Linked DNA regions of Homo sapiens. Changing the gene in region 1 together with any one later gene gives a genetic interaction. Each region holds a gene or a part of one and is shown in the gene's direction. Other genes may lie near its edges.

Evidence for each region. A genetic interaction does not mean that the proteins touch.
Region 2: changes in SNRPG (region 1) and GATB together harm fitness more than expected from each alone (negative genetic interaction), as found in Homo sapiens cells (one large-scale study listed by BioGRID).
Region 3: changes in SNRPG (region 1) and PSMB6 together harm fitness less than expected from each alone (positive genetic interaction), as found in Homo sapiens cells (one large-scale study listed by BioGRID).
Region 4: changes in SNRPG (region 1) and METAP2 together harm fitness more than expected from each alone (negative genetic interaction), as found in Homo sapiens cells (one large-scale study listed by BioGRID).

What each region holds. Positions count from the first base shown.
Region 1 is NC_000002.12:70,282,925-70,288,188, reverse strand, and holds part of SNRPG (small nuclear ribonucleoprotein G), read left to right. Parts: coding exon 1-121; intron 122-817; coding exon of another isoform or gene 818-928; exon of another isoform or gene 929-991; intron 992-5,264. UniProt on the Homo sapiens protein: Plays a role in pre-mRNA splicing as a core component of the spliceosomal U1, U2, U4 and U5 small nuclear ribonucleoproteins (snRNPs), the building blocks of the spliceosome.
Region 2 is NC_000004.12:151,749,983-151,754,775, reverse strand, and holds part of GATB (glutamyl-tRNA(Gln) amidotransferase subunit B, mitochondrial isoform 1 precursor), read left to right. Parts: intron 1-4,793. UniProt on the Homo sapiens protein: Allows the formation of correctly charged Gln-tRNA(Gln) through the transamidation of misacylated Glu-tRNA(Gln) in the mitochondria. The reaction takes place in the presence of glutamine and ATP through an activated gamma-phospho-Glu-tRNA(Gln).
Region 3 is NC_000017.11:4,794,572-4,799,988, forward strand, and holds PSMB6 (proteasome subunit beta type-6), read left to right. Parts: upstream 1-1,592; 5' UTR 1,593-1,623; coding exon 1,624-1,725; intron 1,726-2,156; coding exon 2,157-2,224; intron 2,225-2,866; coding exon 2,867-2,998; intron 2,999-3,110; coding exon 3,111-3,240; intron 3,241-3,437; coding exon 3,438-3,582; intron 3,583-3,688; coding exon of another isoform or gene 3,689-3,708; coding exon 3,709-3,851; 3' UTR 3,852-3,924; downstream 3,925-5,417. UniProt on the Homo sapiens protein: Component of the 20S core proteasome complex involved in the proteolytic degradation of most intracellular proteins. This complex plays numerous essential roles within the cell by associating with different regulatory particles.
Region 4 is NC_000012.12:95,504,884-95,509,676, forward strand, and holds part of METAP2 (methionine aminopeptidase 2), read left to right. Parts: intron 1-4,793. UniProt on the Homo sapiens protein: Cotranslationally removes the N-terminal methionine from nascent proteins. The N-terminal methionine is often cleaved when the second residue in the primary sequence is small and uncharged (Met-Ala-, Cys, Gly, Pro, Ser, Thr, or Val).

The sequences.
Region 1 (5,264 bases):
ATTAAATGGTGGCAGACATGTCCAAGGAATATTGCGGGGATTTGATCCCTTTATGAACCTTGTGATAGATGAATGTGTGGAGATGGCGACTAGTGGACAACAGAACAATATTGGAATGGTGGTAAGTAAAGATACAAGAGTTCTCTTGGAGATTTCATTTTTCTTTTGGAATGTGTATTAACTTTCCTGGTTAGTAACCCCCAGAAATGGCAAATAACAGGCAAGATTAGACTTTCCATCTCCTTTTTAGTTGCATACGGCAGTTACTCAGCTGTAGTAATATCCTGGTTACCTGTAGGTAAGATCTCAACTATACAGAACCTAAGGTCCTAGCGCTTGAAATAGCTGTTGGAAATCCTTTTTGAGCTTTATTCTGCAATAGAGGCTCATAGTTGGTCCTTCATTAGAGCAGTAGTTCTGAAACCTTAATGTGTATATGAATCCCCAGGGAATCTTCTTAAAATGAAGATTCTACTTCAGTAGGTATGGGGCAGAACTTAACTAAGGTTTTGCATTTCTACTAATGCCTAATGCAGATCTGCCAGTTCACAGGTAACACTTTCTGATTTTACTTGTATACATAGTTAACCTGGATTTTCTGGTTTACCACACCCAAAATTTTAAGGTAGCCAAGGTAAAAGTTACAAGGGATAATCACAATGACAGTTATTCACATGAGAGAAAAAGCAGGAAAAAATAAGCACATACTGAGCCCTCATAGGATTAAACATTCCTACATTCATTGGGCCGTAGTTTTAGTGATTGCTGAAGAAGAGTTTTGATACCCAGACTTTGAGTCCCTCTTTGTCTAACACAGGACAACATACCTAATAAAGCGGTAAGCCCAAAGTTCTTGAAAAAGGTGAACCAAAAAGGACAACTTACTTTTAGCAAATTATTAAGCATAAAGACCTCCAAGGAGTGGTAAGAGTTGCTAATTATTAGCCTTGATTTATTAACCTTGATTTTTAAGTTTGAGCAGTAAAGTTGAAGATAGACCTATTTTGACATCTCTGCCTGTTTAATTTTTTTACATACCATTCTTTCCAAGGTTTGTGTTATTACTTATTTCAGATACTTTTTCATTACTGTATTTTGAAAAGCAAATCAATAGTTATGACTGAAAAAACAGTTTAGAGTCTCCAGATACCACACTGTACCCCCAAGTTTCATGTAAATTGACTTGTCTTTCAGGTATATTCCCTTGTGAGCTTCTGTTGAATAAGGCTGCCAGCATGATTAGTAGCCAAGTCCTTTTAAAAACATTTTCTAGATACCCCAAGATTTTCCTCTCAGCCCTTATTTTTACAAATAAATTTTCATTCTAATAGAAGGTAGATTAGGTTTTTAGTTCCTTGCAAAAAATTTGCTGAAAAGGATTCAGGAAGAACTTGGCACCTAATTGTCAATTCTGCTTTGAGAAGATTAGAGAATTATGTAACACACTGCTCATTGGAATTTTATCAGAGAAGGAATAGAGCATCCCTCTGGCAATTTTCCCCCTAAACTTTATGGACTTTATTTTCTTTGCACAGAAATTGGTTGAAAGCACTGCCATCCCAAGTCATTTAAGTAATGATTACCTACTTAGTGTGTTGGGCAGCCTCCTGTTCCATCTCTGAGGTTTATGTGACACACACGCCCCCCAACCCCCAGCCAAAGAAAAAAAAAAGTTTTTATCAGCAGACAGTAATTCTTGCTGCTGAGTCTTCACTTTGAAAAAGAAATAATAACACATCAGACTTCTTTAATAAAAGACATTTTAAAAGGCAAGAACAGAGATGAACTTTTTGACTTTTCTAAAGTTGGAAGAAGGGAAACAAATAGGTTAAGGTTTTGTTATTTTGTTAGAAGTTGTTTAACAAAGGACAGTTGGCTTCATTATTACCTTGTCCAAGTCAGTGATCCATTGAGGCCATTGAAATTACTTAATACTGTTTTATTGCAGTTATGTGTGTGTTGGCTGGGCACAGTAGCTCACATCTATAATCCCAGCACTTCGAGAGGCTGAAGCAGGAGGATCACTTGAGCCCAGGAGTTTGAGATCAGCCTGGGCAACATAGTGAGACCTCATCTCTACAAAAAAATTAGAAAATTAGCCGGGCATGGTGGTGTGCACCTGTAGTCCCAGCTACTCAGGAGGCTGAGGCAGGAAGTCAAAGCTGCAGTGAGCTGAGATCACACTACTGCACTCCAATCTTTGTGACAAAGCGAGATCCTGTCTCAAAAAGGATGTGTTTGTTTTCAGGAGTGAGTTTGTTTTTAACCTGTCAGTTGGATCGTTACCTAATGATAAATCTCAACTATCTTCTGAGACATCCCCAGAGTTGTCAGTGGCATCGCCTCTATCTTACTTTTTATTATGTTACATAGTTCAGGCACTCTTGCTAGGGTTGTCCTTCTGTAGCATCATTGAAGCACAAAAAAGGGAGCAGTATGTAATTCTGGACCTGATGGTTCAAGTTTGATTTGGAGAATTAGGCCTCAAACACAGTGGCAAAAGAGGAAGAGCACTACAATAGGCCTCCTTTATCCTCAGAGTAGGTACCAGAAACCACAGATAGTAGTGAACCCTATGCACAAATTTCTGTGTGTGTGTGTGTGCACGCGCGTGTGTATGACAGAGTCTCACTGTGTCACCGAGGCTGGAGTGCAATGGTGTGGTCTCGGGTCACTGCAACCTCCGCCTCCTGGGTTCAAGCAGTTCTCCTGCCTCAGCTTCCCGAGTAGCTGGGACTACAGGCGCACACCACCACGCCAAGCTAATTTTTGTATTTTTAGTAGAGACAGGGTTTCACTATGTTGGCCAGGCTGGTCTCAAACTCCTGACCGCATGAGCCACCTGCCTTAGCCTCCCAAAGTGCTGGGATTACAGGCGTGAGCCACCGCGCCTGGCCAGCACGAACTTCTTTTTACTTCTTCACAATCTCACAGATAGAAGATTCGTCCTTACCATAAATCTTGGCAGTCTCAACATATGATTCTTTTTCTTATTAAGTCAAGAACTTGTACCTTTTCACTTAAAGGAAGCACTTTACAGCTTCTCTTTGGCATATCCATATTGCCAGCATCACTGCTCTTATACTTTCAGGCTAGTATTAAGTTAAAAAAAGGGTTACTTGAACACAAGTAACCCTTTGATACCACAACAGTCAATCATAAAACTGAGATAACTGATTAATGGGCAGCATGGAGATGCTAGACAAAGGATAATCCACATCCAGGGACAGTATGAGGTATCATCACACTGCTAAGAACAGCATGCAGTGTAAAACTTACGGATGTCTGTTGCTGGGACTATGCATTTAATGTTTTTGGACCACAGATAAGGTGGGACAAAGTTCACCATTTAGCCTTATTTTCTAAATATTATGTGACAAGACAAATATGTAAATTTAGCAGGGAGCTAGGCAGGAAGGCTAGCTTTTCTTGCTTTGGTCAATGAGATGTGATGTTCAATATCTGTTGCCAAAAAAAAAATTGAGAATTTAAAATTCTGATAACTGGCCAGGTACAGTGGCTCACACCTGTAATCCCAGCACTTTGGGAGGCCAAGGCAGGAGGATCACTTGAGACTAGGAGTTTGAGATAAGCCTGGGCAACATGGTGAGACCCTGTCTCTACAGAAAATTTTAAAATTAGCCCAGCTTGGTGGCTCATGCCTCTGGTCCCAGCTACTTGAGAGGCTGAAGTGGGAGGATCACTTGAGCCCAGGAGGTCAAGGCTGCAGTTAGCTGTGATTGAACCACTGCATTCCAGCTTGGGTGACAGAGCAAGACCCTGTTTCAAAAAAAATAATAATTAAAATGAAAATAAAATTCTGATAACTAGGTAAGCATGTTTCTACTCCTGGCTTATGCTGGGCATGGTGATGTGCGCCTATAGTCCCAGCTACTCAGGAGGCAGAGGCAGGAGAACCACTTGAGCCTAGGAGTTCGAGGATGCAGTGTGCAGTGATTGTGCATGTGAATAGCCACTGCACTGCAGCCTGGTCAGCATAGCTAGTCCCAGTCTCAAAAAAATGGAGGGGAGCTCTGTTAACTTAGAAGAAGAGTGTCAATCTTTAGACTCTTTCAGTTCCCATTGTCATTTTCAGGGCACTGTGTTTACTGGTTTTTGTTGTTGGTTTGAGATAAGGTCTCACTCTGTCACCGAGGCCGGAGTGCAGTAGCATGGAGCTTGGTTCACTGTGGTCTCAACCTCCCTGGGCTCAGTTGATCCTTCCACCTCAGCCTCCCGAGTAGCTGGAACCACAGGTGTGCACCACCACCCTCAGCTAATTTTTGTATTTTTGTAGAGACAGGGTTTTACCATGTTGCCCAGGCTGGTCTCAAACTCCTGGGCTCAAGCTATCTGCCCACCTGGGCCTCTCAAAATGCTGAGATTATAGGCGTGAGCCACCATGCCCAGCCATTCTTTTTTAAATCTGCTCTTTACTACCTTATCATACTCATTGCTGATAATTGGCTGCCAGGTTCCAAGACACTTATCCTACCAATTGTGTTCCCTTCTATTCTGTCAGCTGCAGTAATCACATGTGAGTTCTTTTATTCATATTTACCAGGTTATTGAGCCCTCTGTGTGCCTGCTACTATTTTAGGCACTGGGGTTTTGCACCTAAGTCCCTGCCCTCATAAAATTTACATTTGTATGGAGAACACAATAAATCATAGCGTATGTGTAAATAAAACAAGCATGATACTGTGAGAAAAGAATAAGTTACAACTACTTTTACTCTAGCTGCCTATAAGCATAGCTCCACTTTGAATCTTTTTGGAATGCCTCCATTTCTAATAAACACCTCAAATTATTACATTACCTTTCTCTCCCCTACATTACCTATTCTTTCCCTCCCGTACCCCTCCATTCACCTATCCAATTCTACTTGACTGATGGGTGATCTATCGATTATGATGATCTCCAGTCTATTAGGGACTTACTGTTTTTAGTCCCCTAGCCTTCCAGTTTCGCTTATTTTTCTACCCCTCTTGAATTCATTTACCAGCTGATTCATCTATACTCTGATAAGTTTGTCTGTTGGTTTGTTTTGGTTTTGGTTTGTTGTTTTTTTTTTTTTTTTTTTTTTTTTTTTGACAAAAGACAGTTTCGCTCGTTGCCCAGGCTGGAGTGCAGTGGCGCTATCTTGGCTTACCGCAACCTCCGCCTCCCGGGTTCAAGTGATTTCTCCTGCCTCAGCCTCCTGAGTAGCTGGGATTACAGGCATGTGCCACCACACCCGGCTAATTTTTTATTTTTAGTAGAGA
Region 2 (4,793 bases), on another chromosome or scaffold:
GAATTAGAAATCATTACTTTTATTGCGAAAAAGAAGGCTTATGAGCTTTTTTTTTTCCATCTGTAGTTATTTGGAGTGTTTCTTTGGTTCAACATGGTATTGGCTCTTGATTTAGTAAAAAATTAGGATTGTCACTTAAAACAATTGTTATAATGTATAGTCTTTCTGTAGACATTTCATTCTTCTTCTCTGTCGGTTGTGTCTTCATTCACTCAGCTGGCATATATTGGATGCCCACGTTATGCTAGCCCTTGTGTAGCTCTAGTGACACAGTTTTGAACTTGGTAGACGATAGATATGGGTGTTGCCCACATGGAGCATGAACAAGCAAGCAGGCAGTTGCACTACCTTTTAATAAACATGTTAGTCGTGGAAATACAAGGTGCTTGAGGAGCACATAGGAAGAGTATTCAACACAGATATAAGGAATTGATGAAATTGGCCAAGTAGAAAGTGAATAGGATGTACAAAGACCAGAAGAAAAACAACGTGGCTTGCTCTAGAAACTGAAACGTTTTCCATGTGTTGTAGCATAGAATTTGAATATGGGCATTGCAAGAGGTGAGGCTAGAGCAGAAAGCATAGCCTGTACCATATAAGCCCTGATAAAGGGTGTGGATCCCATTTGCAAAGAGGTAAGAAGACGTAAGGAGAGTGCAGGGCCAGAAACTCCAAGGAAGTGAGTGTTTTGAGAAGGAGGGAGTACAAGAACATTGGATGCTACTGAGAGGTCAAGTAAAGTGAGGACTAGGAAGTGCCCATTGGATTTATTAAGAAGGGTATCCTTTGCAAGAACAGTTTGAGTGGGGTGATGGAAACAGAAGGTAGGTGGCAGTGGATTGAGAAATGTCATGGCATGGAGGAAGAAGTGAGTGTGGGCAACTGTTTCAAAAAGTTTTACTATGAAGGACAACAGAATGCAGCAAGTGAAAGGAGACATAGAATCAAGAGAAAACATTTATTGGTCATGTCTTTCTTAATATTGGAGAGACTTGGGAATGTTTAAATGCTGATGAGTTATGTAGTCTATGATAGTGTACACTTAAAATGTGTTTAAGAGGATAGATCTCATGTTAAGTGTTCTTACTGCAATAAAACAAAATTTTTTAAAAATGCTGATGAGAAGGAGCCAATGAAGAAGGGGTAAAGACAGGAGAGGCTTTTGATTAATATGATCAACTGAACACATGCATTTTAATCCATCCTCTCTGTAACCCAGAGAAACCCCACTGAAATCATAGTGAAAGAATGCAAATGTGATAAGCCTACAAAAGAATGGGAGAGGAGACAAGAGTGTGTGAGAGAGAGATGGTAGGTGGAGGAGGGCCTCACTTTGCAGAGGATGCACTGTGACCTAAGTGCCTGCAGGAAGGGACACTAGCGAGAACTGAGATGATGTGTCCTACACAACCTTAAAAACGCTCAGGATGTGGGGGCGTCAAGTATTGTGGAAGGCTGGCTGAGGTGAAAACAAAGGGGTTGAGTCAGAGTCTGAGTACAGTGCAGTGAGATCTGAGCTTCTCTACCTGACCCTCTGCAGCTGCCCTACCCCCATAGGAATGTATAGTCTTTGGAGAAATTCAGCTCATGACACACTTTCCCTGAGGCCACCAGTCAGAGCAAAAGGCGGTATCAGACAGCATCTGTAGTGAACTCCAGGACCTACCCAGTTCTTTTCCCTGCCCCAGTGCGGGAACTTAGGTGGCCTGGTATGTCCATCTTTCCTCTTCCCCTCCTCCCCCAAGCAAGAATCTGCAGGAGCTTCTTTGAAGATTGTGTGACCCTAGTGGGAAGAACATGAGATATTGACATGGTGGGATGTCTCTCAATTTAAAAAAATCTGTCTGGCCACCTGATTGCTTTACAGTGAAGGCCACTGATGAATAAGCCCTGGGCATTTACATAGGACTTTTAATTGGCATTTTAGTATCTTACTTTAAAATATAGATTGAGAGCCAAAAATCACCAGGCACTTGAGGAGATTCTCCAACATGATAGACAAAGCTCAAAATAAAAAAGAAAACTAAAGGAAATAGGAGGCTATAGATAATGCACAGGGTAAAAGAATACTTAAAAAATTAATAGCTTTTATAAATGTCCTCAGAGAGATAAGGGAAGGTAGCTGCCTCTTTGAAACAAGAACACAATACTGCTTTTAAAAAATGAACAAACAGGATAAAAACGAGCTCTTAGAAATTAAAATTATGGTGCCTCTCCTTCCCCTGGGAAAGTTAGAAAATAATGTCAAGAAAATCTTCCAGAGATCAAAACCAATGTGCAGTGCATTGGACAATAGAAGAAAAAAATAAGCAAATTAGAGAATCAGTCCAGGAAGTTCAGCATCTGATTAATAAGAGACTCGTGAAAAAATAGAAAACAGAGTCAAGGAAACTCTCAAACAAAACACGTGGATTAATTTCCCAGAATTGAAGGACATATATCTCTAAATGGAAAGGGCCTGCCAACTACCCAGCCTGAGGAATAAAAATAGTCTAACATGAAGGCATGTCAAGAAACTTAATAACACTGAGAATAAAGTTAAGGTCCTAAAGCTTACAGAGAAGAAAAAAATAATCAGGTCCACATACAAAGGATTGGGAGTCAGACATCAGACTTTTCAACAGCAGCACTTATACCTGTAAGAGAATGGAACCATGCCTTAAACATTCTTAGGGGAAAAAAAATTATAATTCTAACCTAGAATTCGGTACCCAACAGTGTCAATCAGATGTGACAGTAGAAGAATGGTATTTTCAGACAGACTCTCAAAAAGTTTGCCTTTCATTACCCCAGGAACCTGCTGGAATAATAGAGAAGTTTCAGGTTGCCAGCTCTACCATGAGACCGTTGGAAGAGGAGGAAGGTGGCTCCAGAATAAAGAATTCTAGGAAAAAATGAGAGTAGGGAATTAACAGGTATCTGATTTGTGTGGAAAAAAGATTTCCATATAATCTAGCCTTTAGAGGAATGAGCAATAGGTACATAAAAAATGAAGCACATGAAAACAATGAAGGGCTTAGCAAGTCTAGGAAAAACAAAATGTTCAAGAAAGGAAATGTAATCATAGTGTTTTATTAGCTTAGGAGAGAAACATGTAAATAATAATAGAAGCACCAGCTACTGATTTAATAAAAACTGTGATATAACTTGGATATTGGGAAAAGAACTAAATTCTTACCTACCATAATTGGAAGTCATGTTCTAAATTGGTAAAGCAAGAAAAAAGTAACCTAAGTATAGGCTGTAGGAACATTTTTGGCCACTGATTGGAGGCCTCTTTCTCCTTTTCAGGCCTTAAGCCAGTAGATGGGTTTTATTTTGTTGTGTTTTTCTTTGGCGGTGAGGTGGGATGTGGGATTGTATTTGTGTTTTGTTTTGTTTTTTAATTAGGTGATGGGTAAATGATTTGGAGCTCCCAAGAAACAGACTAGTAGTCAAAAGCATTTTTAAAAACAAGATTTATTTTTATTTTATATACAAGATAACGTTAGGTAATAATCAAACATTACCTGTACTGGTTTCTCAGCCTTCTGCTGGTGAAGTGCTTTTCATTTTGTTTTGTTTTTTGTTCTCAAAGTCCAAATAATGAGTCCCCTACCACACCCCTGTTCTCACAACTCTTACCCTTACCCTGATTTTAGGAGAAATAGACTCATCCACATTCTAGATCCATCCATACTCAAGCTCATGCATGTAATGGCTCTGTCTGCTTCCCTGGGGGAGACATGACCTACCATCCTTTTTTCTAACTGACTTTATGGACTTTTATGTTACCCAACTTCTCATGGCAGGGCTTTTAGGGAGTGGGTATATTTTATTTTTGGATAGAAATATAATTTAGCAGCTAGGCACAGTGGCTCGTGCCTGTAATCCCAGCACTTTGGAAGGCTGAGGTGGTTGGATGGCTTGAGCCCAGGAGTTGGAGACCAGCCTGGGCAACATGGTGAAACCCTGTCTCTACAAAAAAAAAAAATACAAAAATAAGTCGGGCATGGTGGTGTATGCCTGTAGTCCGCTGCTTGTGGGGTTGAGGTGGGAGGATCACTTGAGCTTGGGAGGTGTACCACGGCACTCCAGTCTGAGTGACAGAGTGAGACCCTGTTTCAAAAAAGAAAAGAAAAGAAAAAAATATAATGTAGCAGCAAGCTTGGGTAATTCTTTGATAAAGTAAGATATAAAAATATTGCAAAATGTCTCATATTGTTATTCTCTTATCTTGTAACTTATCTCAGTTATCTCTCAGAAATGGAATGGGCCAAGTCTTAGGAGTCCACGTTCTTAAAACAAGTACACTGTATCATTGTGACAGTTTATCAAATCTATCTTTTTTCCAGATTAAGGAAGGATTGTCACATAGCAAATGGCCAGGAGCCTTGGCCAACAGGTGATGGATTTTCCAAAGGTCCCCTGGCACAGCATATTATTTAAAAATAGGAAGATAAATACCAAACGAGACAGCTCAAAGATCTGAAGGTGGTTGCTGCCAGGAACAGGACGGGACCTAGGAAGGGGTGGGGCGGGGAACTGCTGCTTTTCATGATCAGTTATTTAAAAATACATGTCTGTGATATTTTGTTTAAAAAACTTAAGTTAGGGGCTGGGCGTGGTGGCTCACGCCTATAATCCCAGCACTTTGGGAGACCGAGGTGGGCGGATCACGAGGTCAGGAGATTGAGACCATCCTGGCTAACACGGTGAAACCCTGTCTCTACTAAAAGTACAAAAAATTAGCTGGGTGTGGTGGCGGACGTCTGTAGTCCCAGCTACTCGGGAGGCTGAGGCAGGAGAATGGT
Region 3 (5,417 bases), on another chromosome or scaffold:
GCAAGAGAATTGCTGGAACCCGGGAGGCGGAAGCTGCAGTGAGCCGAGATCACACCAGTATAAAAAGACAAATAGAGGCCGGGCGCGGTGGCTCACGCCTGTAATCCCAGCACTTTGGGAGGCCGAGGCGGGTGGATCATGAGGTCAGGAGATCGAGACCATCCTGGCTAACAAGGTGAAACCCCGTCTCTACTAAAAATACAAAAAAAATTAGCCGGGCGCGGTGGCGGGCGCCTGTAGTCCCAGCTACTCGGGAGGCTGAGGCAGGAGAATGGCGTGAACCCGGGAAGCGGAGCTTGCAGTGAGCCGAGATTGCGCCACTGCAGTCCGCAGTCCCGCCTGGGCGACAGAGCGAGACTCCGTCTCAAAAAAAAAAAAAAAAAAAAAAAAAGACAAATAGAGCTGGGTTCAGTGGCACACACCTGTAGTCCCAGCTACTTGAGAAGCTGAGGCGGGAGGATCACTGGAGCCCAGGAGTTCGAGGCTGATATAGTGCACCATGATCCCATCTGCACTCCAGCCTGGGAAACACCGCAAGACAAACCCACCCCACACACACACCCCACCCTCGTCTCAAAAAAAAAAAATTAAACCCCAAAAATATATTAAACAAAAGACATATCCCAATTTTAGAATGTGCAAAGAACTTGAAAAAACATTGCATCAAAAAAGACATACAAATGGCCAATTATCTCATGGAAATATGCTCAGCATCACTAATCATTAGAAAAATACCAATGAAAACCACAGGGTACCACTTCACACCCACTGGAATGGCTATAACTAAAAAAATGCACAATAACAAGTGTTGGTGAGGATGTGGAGAAATTGGAACCCTCACACATGGCTTGTAGGGATGTAAAATGGTGCAGTTTCTGTGGAAAACAGTTTGTCGGTTGCTCAAAATGTTAAACATACAGTTATCATAGAACCCATAAATTCCTCTGCCAGCATATACTCCTAAGTATATAACTAAAAGAAATGAAAACATGGTGTGGTCACTTTAGCCCAAAGACTCTCAGGTTTATTTTGTGGGCCCTTTGGACTGTAACTCCATAAGATCGGTACGGCGCAAGCCACTAGGACTGTTTTTTGTTTTGTTTTGTTTTTGCTTTTGTTTTGAGACAGTCTTGCTCTGTCGCTCAGGCTGGAGTGCAGTGGCGTGATCTCGGCTCACTGTAACCTCCGCCTCCCAGGCTCAAGCGATTCTCCTGCCTCAGCCTCCCCAGTAGCCGGGATTACAGGCGCGCCCCACCACGCCCGGCTAATTTTTGTATTTTTTAGTAGAGAAGGAGTTTCACCATGTTGGCCAGGCTGGTCTTGAACTCCTAACCTCATGATCCGCCCGCCTCAGCCTCCCAAAGTGCCGAACGGTTTTTGGGTTTTTTTTGGTTTTTTGGGGGGGGGGTTTTGCTGACTTTCTTGTTTTGTTTGTTGCTTGCCACGCTGCCATCAAGTGCTCACTGTCGCAAAAGAACCGTCCCCATGCAGTACTGTACTTTTCTTTTCCCTTCTGCCGTCAACCTCGGAGTAGCTTCGCTCCCAGAAGGCCTCAAAGCGCGACCAAAGAGCGTGACAGAGCGCTTTACGACAGTTGCTTTGAGGCAGTACCGGAGGAGAAAGATGGCGGCTACCTTACTAGCTGCTCGGGGAGCCGGGCCAGCACCGGCTTGGGGGCCGGAGGCGTTCACTCCAGACTGGGAAAGCCGAGAAGTTTCCACTGGGGTGAGGAAGGAATCGGGGTTCATAGGACGTGCACAAGGCCTGACGCGATGGGAAGATAAAGCCTGAGTGGGGTTGAGAGATCTGGCAGGGGTGGAGAGGAGGTGGAATGTGTTGTGCTCCAGGAATGGGGAGAGGTACCCCGAAGATGGTGGAGTGGTGCGGTAGCTTCGTAGTGGGAGGTGGAGGGTGGGCTGAAGTTTGAAATTCTGAAATCCTGCGAGGCTAGTGAGGATCTTGGGCTTAAGTACGGGATGAGTCTTTTGAGATTTGAGGGTTGGCATTCTGGTATTCTGCGGGGTGCTGAGGCCCCTATAAGATTTGAAAATGGTTCAGCGACGGACAGATTTTGTATTTTTGGAACTAGGTAGAGAGATCATTGAGGTTTGTGTCTGCTGGAGAATGTAGACTTACTCCTTTTTCCCTTTTCCCAGACCACTATCATGGCCGTGCAGTTTGACGGGGGCGTGGTTCTGGGGGCGGACTCCAGAACAACCACTGGGTGAGCTCAGGACAGATTTGTGAAAGGTCTTCCCATCTTCCTTTTCCTTTCCTGCCTGCCAGCCCACCCTGCCTGCCTCCACAGACCACTGTGGGAAGAGAGGTTTCTTCTCTCTCTGGAGATAAAGATTTGTCCCAACTTTTGTTACTTTCAGTTCCCCTCACTCGTTAGTGGAATCCTTACAAAAGTCTGTTCTCCAGCCCGCTTCAGTTTGGATGAGAATAAGCAATACTGGAGGCCAGGCACGGTGGCTCACGCCTGTAATCCCAGTACTTTGGGAGGCCGAGGCGGGTGGATCACCTGAGGTCAGGAGTTCGAGACCAGCCTGGCCAACATGGCGAAACCCCGTCTCTACTAAAAAATACAAAAATTAGCCGTGCGTGGCGGTGCGTGCCTGCAGTCCCAGCTACTTGGGAGGCTAGGGCTAGAGAATCGCTTGGACCCAGGAGGTGGATGTTGCAGTGAGCAGAGATCGCGTCACTGTACTCCAGCCTGGGCAACAGAGCGAGACTCCATCTCAAAGAAAAAGGAAAAAAAGGCAATACTGGACATCCTATCCCTGAGCCCTAAGAGAGTGGGTAGTGATGGGATGGAGGTGGAAGACAGGTGGGCTCCTTTCCTCACTATTCTGCCATCCTGCAGGTCCTACATCGCCAATCGAGTGACTGACAAGCTGACACCTATTCACGACCGCATTTTCTGCTGTCGCTCAGGCTCAGCTGCTGATACCCAGGCAGTAGCTGATGCTGTCACCTACCAGCTCGGTTTCCACAGGTGCTTGTGGGCAGGGGAGGGGCAAGTATCTGAAGGGAGTTGGAAGCTGAGGAGCTAAATAGCCTGACTTCTAGGTCTTGAAACTTTCTCTGTGACTTCCCTGACCCTCTAGCATTGAACTGAATGAGCCTCCACTGGTCCACACAGCAGCCAGCCTCTTTAAGGAGATGTGTTACCGATACCGGGAAGACCTGATGGCGGGAATCATCATCGCAGGCTGGGACCCTCAAGAAGGAGGGCAGGTCAGATCCCCACCCGACCAGAGCACACTTGAGCCAGGACTTTTATCCTCTCCCCAGCCATTTTCTTTTTCTTTCCAGTCTCTACCTCACTTATTCTTACTATTAACGTGCCTCAGACCAATAGCAGAATGGACAGGTGAATGTACGTGTGTTGGAGGGAGGATACGACTGGTGACTCCTCTCCTTCTATCTGGCAGGTGTACTCAGTGCCTATGGGGGGTATGATGGTAAGGCAGTCCTTTGCCATTGGAGGCTCCGGGAGCTCCTACATCTATGGCTATGTTGATGCTACCTACCGGGAAGGCATGACCAAGGAAGAGTGTCTGCAATTCACTGCCAATGGTGAGAGCTTAGGCTTCTGGGCCTATGAGCTTCAACCCCAACTACCCAAGCCAGGCCAGCATTCCTCATTCCTTGCAGTGATCCCGGCATCTGAATCTGAACCCAGCTTTCTTCTTTTATCCACAGCTCTCGCTTTGGCCATGGAGCGGGATGGCTCCAGTGGAGGAGTGATCCGCCTGGCAGCCATTGCAGAGTCAGGGGTAGAGCGGCAAGTACTTTTGGGAGACCAGATACCCAAATTCGCCGTTGCCACTTTACCACCCGCCTGAATCCTGGGATTCTAGTATGCAATAAGAGATGCCCTGTACTGATGCAAAATTTAATAAAGTTTGTCACAGAGAATCTTTGTACTTTGGGGTTCTTTTTTTTTTGACTTCAAGTCCGAATTTGTCTGGCCCATTCCTATTTGTAAAAACCATTGCACTGAACTCAGAGCAAGTTGGAGAGGAGATGAAAGGAGTTTATGAATGCTTTATTCCCCAGTAAACTTTTACATGGGTGGTTTTCAAACCTCTTCTCCAAATTGCCTTCCCCCAAACTTCCTTTCCCCCACCATATCCAGGTCCTTGAACCACTGGATTGTGGTTGGTGTTGGGGGTACCAGCAACACCCACTCCCTGTTCAAGCCCAAGGTGGAACTCGGAATTCTGACTAAAACTGGAGTCACCTTCCTTCAGCCTGCTTCCTGCCAGTCATCCTGGGTGACTACTGTCCCTAAGGCCACAAAGACCAGCCTCCTCCAGCCCAGCCTCATGGTCCCCTCTCTCCACACTTAACCTCTGTTACCTCACCTTGTGGTCAGCAGTAGCACTGTGACTTCCTTGGCTTTTGGGAGAAAGGTGGGCCTTGTCTGCAAATGGAATTTAAGATGAATGATGAGTGGGAGAACAAAACCACTGGGAGTGGTTTGGCCAGCTCTGGAAGCCACCATTCCCATGGTAGGGGGTGTGATCAACCTCTTGGATGAGAGGCTGAAAATAGACTCTGGCCCTTCCGAAGCTGTCCCCACTCAAGCCAGGGACATAAAGGAGCTCGATAGCTGGGACTACAGGTGTGTGTCACCTCACCTCAGGCTAATTTTATTATTATGTATTTTTTAGAGACAGAGTCTCGCTCTGTCATCCAGGCAGCAGTGTCACTGTCATAGCTCACTGTAACCTCAAACTCCTGGGCTTAAGTGATTCTCCTGCCTCAGCCTACCAGTGTGCTGGGATTACAGGCATGAGCCACTGTGCCCATCCTTTTTTTATTTTATTTAGTTATTTATTTTATTTTTTTTGAGATGGAGTCTCACTCTGTTGCCCGGGCTGGAGTGCAGTAGCCTGGTCTTGGCTCACTGCAACCTCCGCCTCCCGGGTTCTGGCGATTCTCTTGTCTCAGCCTCCCAAGTAGGTGGGATTATAGGCGGGCACCACTGTGCCTGGCTAGTTTTTGTATTTTTAGTAGAGATGGGGTTTTGCCAAGTTGACCAGGCTGGTCTTGAACTCCTGACCTCAGGTGATCCACCCACCTCAGCCTCCAAAAGTTCTGGGATTACAGGCATGAGCCACCACACCCGGCCTTAAATATTTTTTAGAGACAAGGTCTCCCTATGTTGCCCAAGCTGGTCTTGAAGTGGCCTCAAGAGATCCTCTTGCCTCAGCCTCTTGAGTAGCTGGGATTATAGGCGTGAGCCACTGCACCCAGCTCTTTTTAAATAAATTTTTTTTTTTTTTTTTTGAGACAGTGTTTCACTCTTATTGCCCAGGCTGGAATGCAATGGCGTGATCTTGGCTCACTGCAACCTGCACATCCCGGATTCAAGCAATTCTCCTGTCTCAGCCTCCCGAGTAGCT
Region 4 (4,793 bases), on another chromosome or scaffold:
TAGTCTTTACCAGTGACTACCTCAAGTATATACTCCCAGAGTCCCCTGTGCTTTCTGGTGCTGTACGTTAACCTCTGTCAGTCCAGTCCTCCTCTGGCTCCCAGGTCTGTCTGACCATCCCCCAGCCACCATCCTCCTCCCTCATCTGTGCTCATTATTCTCTGTGATCCTGCTGTAATAACTTCCTTATAGACTATTTTCTATATTTCCTTTAACAGAATTCTGTCTCTCTTTGTAGACTGTGAGTGGAGACTCTCATGTTGTTTTCTTGCCTCTTAGTAAATTCACACCATTCAGCATTCTTTGCATTTCCTGTTGCCCATTATGTGTTTCTACCAAGAGCAGAAGTGATTCTTCCTCTGGAACCTGACCGTGCCTTCTATATAGACAGTTACCACCAACGTAACAGTCCTCTTTCATGTCTAAATACTGAAATTTATTACCAGACTTAAACTTTTTTTTGAGACAGTCTCTCGCTCTGTTGCTCAGGCTGGGATGCAATGATGCAATCTCGGCTCACTGCAACCTTTGCCTCCTGGGTTCAAGCGATTCTGCCTCAGCCTCCTCATTAGCTGGGATTACAGGTGCCCACCACCACGCCCGGCCAAATTTTTTTTTTTGAGATGGAGTCTTGCTCTGTCACCCAGGCTGGAGTGCAGTGGCACGATCTCGGCTCACTGCAACCTTTGCCTCCCAGGTTCGAGCCATTCAAGCCATTCTCCTACCTCAGCCTCCTGAGTAGCTGAGATTACAGACGTGTGCCACCATAGTTGGCTGCTTTTTGTATTTTTAGTAGAGGCGGGGTTTTGTCATGTTGGCCAGGCTGGTCTCGAACTCCAGACCTCAGGTGATCCGCCCACCTCGGCCTCCCGAAGTGCTGGGATTACAGGCATGAGCCACCGTGCCCAACTCTTTTTTTAGACAGAGTCTGCCAGACGTGGTGGCTCACGCCTGTAATCCCAAAACTTTGGGAGGCCAAAGTGGGTGGGTCACCTGAGGTCAGGAGTTTGAGACCAGCCTGGCCAACATGGTAAAACCCCGTCTCTACTAAATACAAAAAAAAAATAGCCAGGCGTGATGGCACACACCTGTAATCTCAGCTACTCGGGAGGCTGAGGCAGGAGAATCACTTGAAGCCAGGAGGCAGAGGTTGCAGTGAGTCAAGATTGCACCATTGCACTCCAGCCTGGGCGACAGAGTGAGACTTCGTCTGGGGAAAAAAATAAAAAAGAGTCTTCCTCTGTTGTCCAGGCTGGAGTGCAGTGGCACGGTTGCAGCCCAACCCCCTTGCTCAAGCACTCGGTGGAGTGCGCTCAGCTTCCCGAGTAGCTGGGACTACAGATGTACAGTATCATACCTGGCTAATTTTTGTATTTTTTAAAAAATATTTATTTTTATTTCTAATATATATGCTTTTTTTTTTTTTTTTTTGAGACGCAATCTCACTCTGTCGCCCAGGCTAGAGTGCAGTGGCGCAATCTTGGTTCACGGCAACCTCCGCTTCCCGGGTTCAAGCGATTCTTCTGCCTCAGCCTCTCAAGTAGCTGGGATTACAGGCATGCGCCACTACACCCAGCTAATTTATTTTTGTATTTTTAGTAGAGACGGGGTTTCACTATATTTGCCAGGATGGTCTCAATCTCTTGACCTCATGATCCGCCCGCCTCGGCTTCCCACAGTGCTGGGATTACAGGCATGAGTCACCGTGCCCAGCCTATATATGTTTTTTGATATCAAGATATTCTTCCATTTCATTGTTCTTCAAGGTTTCATTTCCCTTCCTCCTGCCTAGACCCTGTGTTGGCAGCTTTAATTCTTCTCTCATCTATATCTTTAACTTCTTTGTTATTTGATTTTCAGATATTCTCTTTAAGATCTCTAATCCTGTGAACACAAGTGCAAAGCAGAATACTTATTTATTTATTTATTTATTTATTTATTTATTGAGACAGAGTCTTACTCGTTCTGTCACCCAGGCTGGAGAGCAGTGGTGCAGTCTTGGATCACTATAAGCTCAGCCTCCCGAGTAGTTGGGATTACGGGTGTGTGTCATCATGCTGGCTAATTTTTGGACTTTTTTTTTTAGTGGAGATGGGGCTTCATCATGTTGGCCAGATCAGGCGATCTGCCCACCTTGGCCTCCTAAAGTGCTGGGATTACAGGCGTGAGCCACTGTACCCGGCCCAGAATACTCTTGATGTTACTCACACTTAGGTAGGAGGTGTGGGATAATGAAGAAAACACACTTTGGGGTTCAGGCAGTTTTTACTTGGAGTCTTAGATAAATCTGTAACCTGAATACCCAAGTTTCTTGACTGTAGTAGGGTTAATGGTATCTAGTTTATTTTGAGAAATGTAAATTGTGTGATAGTGCCTGGAATTTATTAAGTATTCAACAAATATTTGTCATTCTGTCCCCTTCTCACCCCAATTCTGGGATTAGTGCCACAAATACAGTGCTTATTCAGGCTCTTCCAAATCGCTCTTCGCATCCAGGAAATTACTTACCTGATGAGAAAAATAGCCAAACAAGCCTAACACTCTTTAACATTTTTTCCACGTTGCATAAAGAACATGGCAAAATACCAGGATTGGCAAATGCCGGGATTTGCCCATCTTCTCCCTATTCTTATGTTTTTATCTCTGTTCTTCAAGGAAGAAATATTCTGTCTTCTATACAGTATTTTCTTTAAAATTTTTTTAAATTGTTAGCTCAAACACTGCGTTAAGGATCTTCTTTTCAGTGTTAATCCTCCACCTCCTTTGAGATACCACCTTATTACGCCTTTTCTCTACATACTCAGCCTTTCCCCTAGTGGCTCCTCTCAGTGTGAAAGCACATGTGGAGGAGAATAAAAATCATAGCATTAGATAACCTTCCATGATTCTCATGATTTTTTTTTTTTTTTTGAGAGAGACTTTTGCTCTTGTTGCCCAGGCTGGAGTACAATGGTGCGCGATCTCGGCTCATCACAACCTCCGCCTCCCAGGTTCAAGCAGTTCTCCTGCCTCAGCCTCCCGAGTAGCTGGGATTACATGCGCCACCACGCCCAGCAATTTTTTTTTTTTTTTTTTTTTTAGTAGATGTGGTGTTTCTCCATGTTGGTCAGGCGGTCTTGAACTCCCAACCTTAGGTGATCTGCCTGCCTCGGCCTCCCAAAGTCTGGGATTACAGGCGTGAGGCACCGCACCCAGCCGATTCACATATTCTACTTTTGGCTTTTACTTACTGTTATGTGAAATTTTTACAATTTATTTTTACATTAAGACATGATTTAAATTTACTATGTTCCTTAGTAAGGGTAAACATACTTTTCTTTGTATCCTAGCCAAAGCCATAAGGAAAGCAAAAGATTTTTAAAGGCTAGAATTTAGAAGATCTCATTTCCAGTGTGCTTTTCTTTGGAAAATGTTTTGTCCAGTTCTTTAAATAGCTTAGAACCAGTTTTAGGAGTTGCTGCTTCTATTAACACTTTATGAGCTCCCCAGAAGCAAGATTCTTAACCCAAAGAAAGCTGAGATTAAGAGCATAAATGCCAAGTTAATTTGAGGAATTTATGGGACTAGAACATGGGCCTTCTGATTTCTAGGTTCACTGCTACAAATGAACAGAATCTATTTCCAAATTCGTGAGTCTTATGTCAACTTGGAGTACACACTGTAGCAGTCTGCTTGGGGGACTACCTCTAGAGTTAGTTATTTCTCTTTTTTGAGAATTTGCTGAAATTTTTGTAAATTCCAACACTAGCCAACATATACCAATGTCTTCTCTTTTTCCTTTCATTTTCTCCTAATTCTACAACTTGTTTGGTATGTGGTCTGCCTTTCAAGGTATGGTAGGTGACAGTTTGACTTAATGTTTTAGTCACTGCATAATAATTCCAGCCTGCAACATCGGGATTTTTAATATCTACCCTTTTACCTCTTCCATTAAGCTAGTGCAGCATTTTTGGTTTCATTATTTCAGTACCCCTCTTTTGATCCCTGTTATTTTATTGATCAGTGTTCTTAGTTTAAGGCAACAATCCATTTTTATAGTTTAAGCAGAGAGGATGTGGAAAAATCATGATAATAGGGAGATGAAGAAATGGATTCCGGGTTGAACTTTCCAGAACAAATCAAAACACATAGCACAAACGGGCCATCAAAGGAGTATCTTAATCTCCTTTGATCAGGAAGCAATAGAATTAAAAAGTGATTGTTAACAAATTACTGGTCCCAGAATTAGCCTGTGCTGTTACAACCTGCATAAGTAAAAAATGAATTCCCCTGTACCCTCATTTTTCTGTGTAACTAACATATTAGGTTGGTATGGCTAAGAAACTTTCTTTAAAAAAATTGATTGGCTTGTAAGGGTCAGTCTGCAAAGTTTGAATTTTAAAATAAGCTTGTTACTTGTCAACCTAAATAACAAACAGAGGCTCTCTAAAAGAAAATGATGTTTGGGAATAGAGCATTGCAGTGGGAATGCCATAGTAAACTTGTGCATATTCAGGGAGGTAAGGAAGACAGAGGTTTTTGAAGACGAAAATGAGGATGACATAATTGTTTTGAAATAATTATCCTTGGCTCCAAAGATTAATAACAAAAGTGACGCCAGTCGGAGGTTGGGCAGGCAGTTGTTGGGCAGATGTCCTTGCAGAAGTATTTTTTTGTGTAAGGTTGCAGTGGGCTTTGTGCAAGGTTATGGTTTTCATAGTCATTTTCATTATCAGGTGTATAAGCATGAGAACCCTCTCTTCATGGCTTTCCCTAGCTCTGTTTGAGTCTGACAACTTTGACACATTTATATA